Homo sapiens: one gene and its partners. The protein of the gene in region 2 purifies or fractionates together with the protein of the main gene of each other region. This does not show direct contact. Each region holds a gene or a part of one and is shown on either strand. Other genes may lie near its edges. The genes, in order: CEP170, TSPOAP1 and CPVL.

Evidence for each region.
Region 1: the proteins of TSPOAP1 (region 2) and CEP170 purify together in Homo sapiens (co-immunoprecipitation; one large-scale study listed by IntAct). This does not show direct contact.
Region 3: the proteins of TSPOAP1 (region 2) and CPVL purify together in Homo sapiens (pull-down; one large-scale study listed by IntAct). This does not show direct contact.

What each region holds. Positions count from the first base shown.
Region 1 is NC_000001.11:243,129,650-243,133,300, reverse strand, and holds part of CEP170 (centrosomal protein of 170 kDa), read left to right. Parts: intron 1-3,651.
Region 2 is NC_000017.11:58,308,271-58,311,921, reverse strand, and holds part of TSPOAP1 (peripheral-type benzodiazepine receptor-associated protein 1), read left to right. Parts: coding exon 1-30; intron 31-199; coding exon 200-351; intron 352-708; coding exon 709-1,086; intron 1,087-1,170; coding exon 1,171-1,410; intron 1,411-1,763; coding exon 1,764-1,955; intron 1,956-2,541; coding exon 2,542-3,381; intron 3,382-3,651. UniProt on the Homo sapiens protein: Required for synaptic transmission regulation. It probably controls the recruitement of voltage-gated calcium channels to the presynaptic membrane, and modulates neurotransmitter release.
Region 3 is NC_000007.14:29,066,449-29,070,099, reverse strand, and holds part of CPVL (probable serine carboxypeptidase CPVL isoform b precursor), read left to right. Parts: intron 1-3,651. UniProt on the Homo sapiens protein: May be involved in the digestion of phagocytosed particles in the lysosome, participation in an inflammatory protease cascade, and trimming of peptides for antigen presentation.

The DNA of each region.
Region 1 (3,651 bases), on a different chromosome or scaffold from region 2:
TCCTCACATTTGAGTGTAGAAGGCAGGTAAACAGTTAATTATAGTTCAGTGTGTTAAGGGAAATATAGGATGGTTACTATGGAAGCCCATAGCAAGGGCACTTGGGAAATTCAGAGAAGGGCTCTTAGAGAAATTGCCATGCAATTTAAGTCCTGAATGATGAGGAGAGGAGTTACTCAAAAGCTATGTGAAGTGAAAGGGCCAGAGTATGGTGAGAGATGACACTAGAGAGATGAGGATGGATCTGTTTTGGCAGAATTTGTTAAGGAGTTTGGATTTTATTATTAAAAACCATAGGAAGCTAATATATCCAATATGGGTCCTCTTGATACACCAGTGCTATCTGTAAAAATATCATGAGAGTCTTGTATGGTCATGTGGCTTGCACCTGGAAAACCCTGGAGTCTCCTTACCTGTAAACAAGTACACAGTGTTTTTTCATCCTACCTACTGAAATACAGGTCCGTCCCTGCTAACTGGAGTCTTAACCACTCATTCATTTATTCAGCAGATGTTCACAGATTACCTGCTGTGTACCATTCTCTTCCTTACCACGGAGCAGCTTTCCTACGTTCTGTAGTCTCCCCCAAAGAAAAATATTTTTTGTAGCTTTGACATTGAACTAAAATTGAGAACAAAGAAGACATTGCTGATGGATTGATAACCTGTGTTGTCTCAGAAAGTGACAGAATTTATAAAGTTTAAAAAAGGATGCATAAAAATGCCTCAATAAAGTTATACATAAATACAGAATGTTTAATGTATTTGAATTGCCTTCAGTTCGAGTGTTGAGTTTTACTATGCATAAAGCACTATGGCAGGCTTTATGGAAGGTAATGAGGATAAAACCATTTCTATTATTAAAGAGTTTCCAGTGTAGTTGGCAAGGTGAGGCACATATGCAATCAACTGTCGTACAAGATAGCGTATAATAGATTAGTGCTCAGTTAGAGATATAAAGGCAAAGGAAGGATCACTTTCACCTAGGAGGTTTAGGGAAGGCTTTGGGAAGAAGATACTATTCAAAGGTAGGTCTGAGTTGTGATAACCAAACCTAAGGGGTAGAGACCTGGGCCTTCTGCGTGGAAAGTGCCAGGGTAGTTTGAGAATCAACTGGTCTTTAAGCTTTGTGTCAGGAGTTATAACCTCAAATGTCTACTGGGGTTCATCCTAGAGGCATGCGTACTTACATTGTATGAACACTGTCTGTGGAATCCATTTTTAAATATTTATACAGGAACTCCTGTTGTACAGCATTCTCATTGCATTCCATGTGAAAATGACCCCCTTAGGTTGTGTAGCATGGCCTTGCATTGGTAGACTCTCAATTCGCAACTCCGCGTTCGCATGTTTTAAGGGCTAGTACTAGGGAATTGGTTATGGCTCATAGAATAGGAGCCTGAGACTTCTGTTTGTTTCCCTAAAACCAATGGCTTTATCAAAAGTATTTTAACTTAATTCTTAAATTATTGAATGAAATAAGCTTTGGAATTTTATGTATTTTCATGCTGAAGTTTAGCTTATTTTGAATCTATAATATAATCTGAATATCACTTTGAAAGCTATGATTTTTTCAGCTTAAAATTGATAAGGACCTTCAAACAAAAACAAGTTCTGGTCATTATAGCCTGGTCTAAACTAATTTCTTGGTCTGGTTTTCTGATTCTCTAGTATTTAAATATTAAATATTATAGTAAATATTATAGTAAAGTTTATTTCATAATGCCAAAATGACAAGTTTGACTTCTTAGATCTGTTCTATTATATATTACAAATTGTTTTTTGTTTTTTTGTTTTTTTGTTTTTTGTTTTTTGTTTTTGAGATGGGCTGGAGTGCAGTGGCATGTTCACAACTCACTCACTCAGTGCAGCCTCGACCTCCCTGGGCACAAGCAATCCTCCCACCTCAGCCTTCTTAGTAGCTAGGACTACAGGCATCTGCACCACACCTGCTAATTTTTTTGTATTTTTTATAGAGACGAGGTCTCGCCATGTTGCCCAGGCTGGTCTCGATCTCCTGGCATCAAGTGATCCACCCACCTTGGCTTCCTAAAGTGCTAGGATTACAGGCATGAGCTATTGTGCCTGGCCAACAAACTGTATTTTAAAATAAACCATTTATTTCTTCAGGGGGGCATTTTTTTTTCAGGGGCAACCCGTGAAAAACCCATTTTCACCAAAGGTGAAATGTCTATGGTTTAACAGTTTTAGATCCACAAACACTATACTCAGTAGCCATCCTCTGGAAAAATTCACTGAATTTTTAGCACTGTGTGGCTAAACAGAGTCTTTCTCTATTGTATAAGTCCATTACAGTTCTAAGCTGGTCCATGAAATAGTCATTATTTCCTTATTTTCCATCAGTCCTAATGCTGCAAGGACTCTTTTACAAGAACATAATAATTTAGAAAAGATGGCTGGCAAGGGTGTTCATTTTTTTGAGTTTAGAAAATTTAATAAGTAGGCCATAAGAATATTCTTATACCAGATTCTAGACCCGTTGCCACCTTAAGCAAATGTTCCAGACTTGATGTGATGTTAATGAGTTTCATGTTTTTAAATAAGGTAAGTCTGGCATGTTGATCTTTGAAGAAATACCAGCACAAATATTAACTTAGTTTACTACTTAAATGCTGATCAGCTTGCAGTAGTAATACATTTACATGAGGTTATATAGTGTTGTTTAAACTAGATTTCCAGGCTTACTGAAAAAAATTTAAAAGAAACCAAAAAAGTAGCTAGTATTTACATCTAAGACTGCTGAATCATGTCTGATAGACTCTAAAGTGTTAGAAAAGTGTCCCACATTTGAAAGACACGTCAAAATTTTGTGGTCCTTTATTTTATAAGTTATTTGATGTTAGGGTAATGATAGGATAATTATCTTTATTGGCAATTGTTTTTATCAAAAGGGTAGCATCCTAATTCCTAATAGGTTATTATGTGCAAGTATACTAACACGAATTAACAATTGTTAAAGAAAAGCACAGTAAGTACTCCCAATTTTTTGTCTTCAAAATAATATACACACTTTTCTTGATCGATAAGGTGCTTATTCCCATATAAAGAGGTCTTAACAGACACAATTGTTTATACCTAATTCAACCTATTTTCATCTCACTTATTCCTATACTGCATATATTCTGTCTGAATAAAATTGCATTTTCTTTATAAGTGACAGTTACACAGTCTTTTCTCCTTATACCCAGGTGATACATGTTGTTCCAAGATACCCACTGGATGCCTGACACCACAGATAATTCTAAAACCTAATATACTGTGTATTTTCCTACACATACATGCCTATGATAAAGTTTAATTTATAAATTAGGCACAGTAAGAGATTAACAATAGTAACTAATAATAAAATAGAACATTTGTAACAATATACTGTAAAAAAAAGTTATGTGAATGTGGTCTTTTTTTTTCTCTCTCTCTCTCTCCCTCTCCCAAAATACTGTAATAGTTACGGACCATGCTTGACTGCCACTAACTAAAACCATGGAAAGAGAAACTGTGGATAAGAGGGCATTACTGTATTGTAAATTATAAATATTAAAGTTTTGAGGTCATAACATCATTTACATTTGTTTTATATTTTGTTTTCAATAAAGAATAAGATAAACAGTAAAGAATTTATGCATGTATTAA
Region 2 (3,651 bases):
CCACCCTGCAGTTCACCACACTCCCAGCAGGTATGTGGGCTTGGGCCCTGTTGTCCAGAACACCCAGGAGGCCAGGCCATGGGTGACGGAAGAAGGGGACCCTGATCTTATTTGCGTTATCAGGGAAATAGCAAATTGGGCAGGTATCTCTGATGGGGAGCGTCCTGCATCACTGGGTCTTGTGCCCCCCTGCCCCCAGGCCCACCTGATGCCCCTCTGGATGTGCAGATCGAGCCTGGGCCCTCCCCTGGGATCTTGATCATCAGTTGGCTCCCAGTCACCATCGATGCTGCTGGCACATCCAACGGTGTCCGGGTCACAGGCTATGCCATCTACGCTGATGGGCAGAAGGTATAGCCCTGCCCACTGTACCCTGGGAGTGGGGGTGGGTCCCTTCTTGCTATGCTCAGAGGTCTAGGCTCTCTGGCTTGGCACGGAGATGCCCAGCCCCTGGCATTTGGGTACCATGAGGCAGATGGGTTAAGAGCATGGGCTTTGGCAGCACATGACAGATTTTAGAACTGTTCCATCACTGAAGCCATATGGCCAGGAGGATGAAATGAGATAGGCCATGCAGAGGGCTTAGCACAGTACCTGGCGTAATGCTAGCTGCCACTGCTGTCAGTTAGCTGCCACTGCTGTCAGTGCATCCTCACGCTTGGCTGTCTCAGCCTCTGCTTCCCATCCTGTGCCCCCTCCACCCTGCAGATCATGGAGGTGGCCTCACCCACGGCAGGCAGTGTACTGGTGGAGTTGTCCCAGCTGCAGCTGCTGCAGGTGTGTCGTGAGGTGGTCGTGCGCACCATGTCGCCCCACGGGGAGTCGGCGGACTCCATCCCGGCTCCTATCACTCCCGCCCTGGCTCCGGCCAGCCTGCCAGCCCGAGTCTCCTGCCCCTCACCGCACCCAAGCCCAGAGGCCAGAGCGCCCCTTGCTTCAGCCTCCCCAGGGCCTGGAGACCCCAGCTCTCCTCTCCAGCACCCTGCTCCCCTTGGAACTCAAGAGCCTCCAGGAGCACCCCCTGCAAGCCCTTCCAGAGAGATGGCAAAAGGGTCCCACGAGGACCCTCCAGCACCTTGCTCCCAGGTACCCTGTCTGGGGAGAGGGGAGCAGGTGCAGGCTGGCAGAGGGACCTGGGCTTGGGTCCTTCCTCAGTGCTCTCTGTTCCAGGAGGAGGCTGGGGCAGCAGTGCTGGGCACCTCAGAGGAGAGGACAGCCAGCACATCTACCCTGGGTGAGAAGGACCCTGGCCCCGCAGCTCCCTCACTGGCCAAGCAGGAGGCCGAGTGGACTGCAGGAGAGGCCTGTCCGGCCTCCAGCTCCACCCAGGGAGCACGGGCCCAGCAGGCGCCAAATACCGAGATGTGCCAAGGAGGAGACCCAGGGTCTGGGCTGAGGCCCAGGGCTGAGGTAGGGGTTTGGGGACACACTGTGTCACTTCAGAGAATTGAGGCCTGTCTCCCTACCTTTTGCCAGCGCAAATCCAGTTGCCCTCTCTGCCTGTCCTCTGCTCTGGTCCTGCTCTCACACCTTTGGCTGTGCTATGTGTCTGTTTTTCTTCTAGGATTTCTCTGTCCCATGTGGCTCCCATCTCCCTTCTCCCACCCTGCCCCTGAGCCATGGTGTGCCTCCCCCATTTAGGACATGGCTCTTTCTCCCTCTGCCAAAGGACCCTTGTTACTGTGGCTGGGGCTGACCCTGCCTGGAACCCCCTGTGCCCCCTCACTGTCCTTATCTCTCCTGCCTTGCCTCACTTCTTGCAGAAGGAGGACACAGCAGAGCTTGGGGTTCATCTGGTGAACTCCCTCGTGGACCACGGCCGCAACTCAGACCTGTCAGACATCCAGGAGGAAGAGGAAGAGGAGGAGGAGGAGGAGGAAGAGGAGCTGGGTTCCAGGACTTGCTCCTTCCAGAAGCAGGTTGCTGGCAACAGCATCAGGGAGAATGGGGCCAAGGTAACGGGGTAGGGATGGGCTGTTGGGCCCCAGGCCTCAAACTCCGGGGCCTCCCCACTGTGTGTCAGCAGGTGCTCTGACCACCACTGAGTGCCAGAAACATTCTAGGTCTGTGGCCTGGGCCCTGTCCTAAGCAGAAGATAGGAAGTGCCCCAGGATTGGCCCCTGCCCTCCTGGAAAGAAAGGGGAAGGGGAGGAGTTCATTTCTGTACCTTCTCTCCCTCCAGCCCACCAGATACAGCGCCCTGGCCAGGGGAGGCCGGTGCCACCTAAGATCCTTGTGCTGGTAGCTTCTGGGGAGGGGATGGGGAGGCCTGCTCCTCAATGCTCCTGTCCCACAGGGGCTGGTGATGGTTCCTAGAGTGTGTTCCCTAATTCTTCCTTTGGCTCTCACTGGATATGTGTGTGAATTTGGGCCAGCCACCGTCCCTCTGGTTCTCTCCTCTCGGAGGAAGCCGTGGGAGGGCTGTGGGGTTGTCCGTAACCCCTGCCTTCGTTTGAGGGCAAAGATCGCAGCTCGCTCTCCTCTTCCCCACGCATCTCTCTTCCCTGCTGTGTTCTACTCCCACCTCCCCACCTCCACCAGTCCCAGCCCGACCCCTTTTGTGAGACTGACAGCGATGAGGAGATCTTGGAGCAGATCCTGGAGCTGCCCCTCCAGCAGTTCTGTAGCAAGAAGCTCTTTAGCATCCCGGAGGAGGAGGAAGAGGAAGAGGAGGACGAGGAGGAGGAGAAGTCAGGGGCAGGCTGTTCTTCCCGAGACCCTGGCCCGCCTGAACCTGCATTGCTGGGGCTGGGCTGTGACAGTGGTCAGCCCCGAAGACCTGGCCAGTGTCCCTTGTCTCCTGAGTCCTCCAGGGCTGGAGACTGCCTGGAAGACATGCCTGGATTAGTTGGTGGAAGCAGCCGGAGGAGAGGAGGGGGCTCCCCTGAGAAGCCCCCAAGCCGCAGGCGGCCTCCAGATCCCCGAGAACACTGCAGCCGACTTCTCAGCAACAATGGGCCCCAGGCCTCTGGACGACTGGGCCCCACACGGGAGAGGGGTGGCCTCCCCGTAATTGAGGGCCCCAGGACTGGACTAGAGGCTAGCGGGAGAGGCCGGCTGGGCCCTTCCCGGAGGTGCTCCCGTGGCCGGGCGCTGGAGCCTGGCCTGGCCAGCTGCCTTTCCCCCAAGTGCTTGGAAATCAGCATTGAATATGATTCGGAGGATGAGCAGGAGGCGGGCAGCGGGGGCATCAGCATCACCAGCTCCTGCTACCCTGGAGATGGGGAGGCCTGGGGCACAGCAACTGTAGGAAGGCCCAGGGGGCCTCCGAAGGCCAATTCAGGCCCCAAGCCCTACCCACGCCTCCCAGCCTGGGAGAAAGGGGAACCAGAGCGGAGAGGCCGCAGTGCGACGGGCAGAGCCAAGGAGCCACTCTCCCGGGTCCGTGCTCACTCCCCGCCCTGGGCAGCCCCTGCCTGCTGCCACCTGGTGGCCCTGCTTGCTGCCCACCAGCAGCTCCCATTCCACGCTGCCTGCCTCCATCAGCAGAGGTGGGGCCGGGCCTCCGGGCTCCCTCACCTGCCTCCTCCCACCCACATTCCACTGCTTTGCTGCTTCTGCTGATCAGGACTGGGATGCACAATATTCTATCACTAGTCGCCTGTTGCGGCCTGTGGGCAGGGTCGCCCTTTCCTCTGCATAGCTAGTAAT
Region 3 (3,651 bases), on a different chromosome or scaffold from region 2:
CAAGACCTTTGCTTTTTCAAGGAAAATAGATAAAATGATACTTAGGACAGTAAACAACTTGTGGTTGAAATGTGTTTCAGTGACTGCAAAGGAAGACTCCAACAAATCCTGAAACCCAGGGGAATATAAATGTCAGAATCTCAAGCCTAAAATGATAAAGCCTGTTTGACGCTCTGATCCTTTAAAATGATTTAATTAATCAAAGAGTAGTAACTCAGAGCTGGAGAGTACTCTGGAGATAGGTCATCTACTGTCCCTATGCATTTACATGCACACACACACACACACACACACACACACACACACACACACACACACACACACACACATTTACTGGTGAGTGGAGAGGATGCCGAGCCCCAGGGGATAGCAATGAATTGCCGAAGGATACACAAATAGATTGTGGCAGGCTGAGGACTGGAATTGCTTCCCCCATTTCCACCACAGTATTTATCCTATGGTAATTTTCAGGCATTCTGTAAAAATCCTGGATCGTCTTAGATATTCTGCAAGATGTGAAATGACTGATCCTCTGTCCAGTATTACCTCCCTTTCCATGATGATTTTCTGAATCACAAAGTTCTTAGTTTCACAGGTCTTGACCACCCATGTTATTTTTTGACAACAACTGACTTTTTCTTTTTTTTTTTTTTTTTTTTGAGACGGAGTCTCGCTCTCTTGCCCAGGCTGGAGTGCAGTGGCAAGATCTCAGCTCACTGCAACCTCCACCTCCCAGGTTCAAGCCATTCTCCTGCCTCAGCCTCCCGAGTAGCTGGGATTACAGGCACTCGCCACCACGAATGGCTAATTTTTCTTATTTTTAGTAGAGACGGGTTTTCACCGTGTTGGCTGGGCTGGTCTCAAACTCCGGACCTCAAGTGATCCGCCCGCCTCGGCCTTCCAAAGTGCTGGGATTACAGCTGTGAGCCACCATGCCTGGCCAACAAATGACTTTTAACTCTTTCTAAAAGCAAAGTTATTCTTCAAGGTTGACTTTATATTCCCACTGGTGTTGAAGATAATTTCTAACAATGAGTTCCAAAAATGATGTGTGCATTCAGAATGACCCTGGCCTATGGTGCCCCATCTGGGTGAACAAATTAGAAAAAGACACCTCGGCCGGGCGCAGTGGCTCACGCCTGTAATCCCAGCACTTTGGGAGGCCGAGGCGGGCGGATCACGAGGTCAGGAGATCGAGACCACGGTGAAACCCCGTCTCTACTAAAAATACAAAAAAGTTAGCCGGGCGTAGTGGCGGGCGCCTGTAGTCCCAGCTACTCGGGAGGCTGAGGCAGGAGAATGGCGTGAACCCAGGAGGCGGAGCTTGCAGTGAGCCAAGATCGCGCCACTGCACTCCAGCCTGGGTGACAGAGCGAGACTCCATCTCAAAAAAAAAAAAAACAAAGAAAAAAAAAAAGAAAAAGACACCTCCTCTGTGGTGATGCAGTCCTGTGGGTTCAGGACGGGGCAGGCAGATGCCTCCATTGTGTGAGGATAAGAGGTGGCCACTTCTCCAGATGCAGCCCTGAGCCAGGCTCTCCAGCTCAGCGAGCAGAACTTTGGCTGGTTCCCTGTCCCTTTGCACCCCTTAGCCACAGGCATCGCATGGAGCTGCACAACCAGATGTGGGGCCCTGAGCAATGGTAGCATTGGTAGAGAATACTTACTACCACCTCCACCCACACCGCCTTCTATGGTGATAACCCTTTTCATTCTTGGCCTCTAGCCCCATGGCAATAGGAACTTGAATAAGTTCTTTCATGTTTGAAAAAGAATATGAATACAGGCCGGGGGCGGTGGCTTACACCTGTAATCCCAGCACTTTAGGAGGCCGAGGTGGGCAGATCACAAGGTCAGGAGTTCGAGACCAGCCTGATCAACATGGTGAAACCCCGTCTCTATTAAAAATACACACACACAAAAAAAAATTAGCTGGGCGTGGTGGCAGGCGCCTTTAATCTCAGGTACTCGGGAGGCTGAGGCAGGAGAATTGCTTGAATCCGGGAGGCAGAAGTTGCAGTGAGCTGAGATCTCACCACTGCACTCCAGCCTGAGTGACAGTGCGAGACTCCATCTCAAAAAAAAAAAAAAAGAATATGAATATAATAATTAGTCTATTTTCTCAAGCATTGAAGCATGGCCAGAAGGAATTGGCAAGTAGGAAGCATTGCAGGCTGACTGCTGGGAGCCAGTGTGTGCGTGGTTGAGTGTGCAGGCTCAGGAGTCGTGGCCTAATCATCTCATCTCTGACATTATTAGTGAGGTGTCCTCGGCAAGTTGCTTAAACTCATGTGTCTCAGTTTTCTCACCCATAAAATTAGAATAATAATACCTTATCTGATAAGAGACCTAAATTTGTACTTGATAGATTGTTTTTAACATGTGCTGACTTCATTTCTTTGAATTCTTTTGTAAGAACTCCTTACAACTTAATATCATCATCAACAACCCCCCTCCATGTCTTCAACCTCTTCTGTGACTATTTTCTTCTCTTCATCTTCTTGCTTTGCCAGAAACCTGGCTCTCCCCTGATGCTGCAGTCCCTGTGGTCCTCTTGAGTGGGGGCTGTTCTCTCTCTTAGCTTGTCTGTATCACTTGGTTCATAGGTGGAGTAGGTGTCTTCCTTGCTCATCATGTGACTTTCAGATCATGTTCCCTGCCTCCTCCTAAAGCATTGAGCTTTGACTCTCCTGTCCTCAGACAGGGCCTCTGACCACTTCCAACTGTGTCTGCCTACCAACCCCTGGTTACTCCCTCTCATTTGAATAGCTGAGCTCCTTCCTCCCTGTCACTCTCTGCAGCATTATTCTTGTCATAATTCCTGGTAACTGCAGGATCCACATTGACGATCCTTTTGGGACCTGGTCCTTGGTGCCTCAGCCTCCTCTTTTTCAATGATCTTGTTCTCCTCCTCATCTTAGCTGCTGATTCTCATACCCTAAAATGCTGGCAGCTGATCCACAATCACACATTCAAACATCTTTCTCCAACTACCACCTCCTGTCCGAATCTCTTCTGCTAATGTACTGATCTTACAGCCCTGCAACCTCACTACCTTTCAATCCATTGATCCTCCTGCCTCTCCACTATCTCTAACCCCCTCAAGTCTCCATTTCTCTAATTACCTGTCTTCAACCCAGGGTCAGTCATTCCATACATTTCCAAGCCCAAAGCTCTTTTGCATTTCTTCCAACTCCTTTGGCTGAACCACAGCCCTGGCTCAATCTGCCTCTCTGTCAGGCTGTGCTTGTCTCCACACAGCTGACAATGGCTGGAGGAAAGCATGCAACCATGCTGACTGCTCTCCCGCTCAGCTGGTGACTGGGTTTTTTAATGTCAGCCCAAAGATAACTTCCACCAGCTCCAGGAACCTGCATCTGCACCATATCCTGCGTCTTCTCTCCATGTCATCTGGTGAGCAGTTCATGATCCATGTTAAGGCACCCTTCCCACAAGGCTTACTCCCATAGGCAAGGCCTTTGAGCTTACTGTGTCCTCTGCCTGGAACCTTCCTTCCCCTAGATGTCTGCATGGCTCTATTCCTCTCATCCAATATGTCTTTACTCAAATGCCACCTTCTAAGTGAGGTCCTCTGTGACCTCCTCTCTACATTGTCCCATACACACATGCACACACATGACACTTCCTACT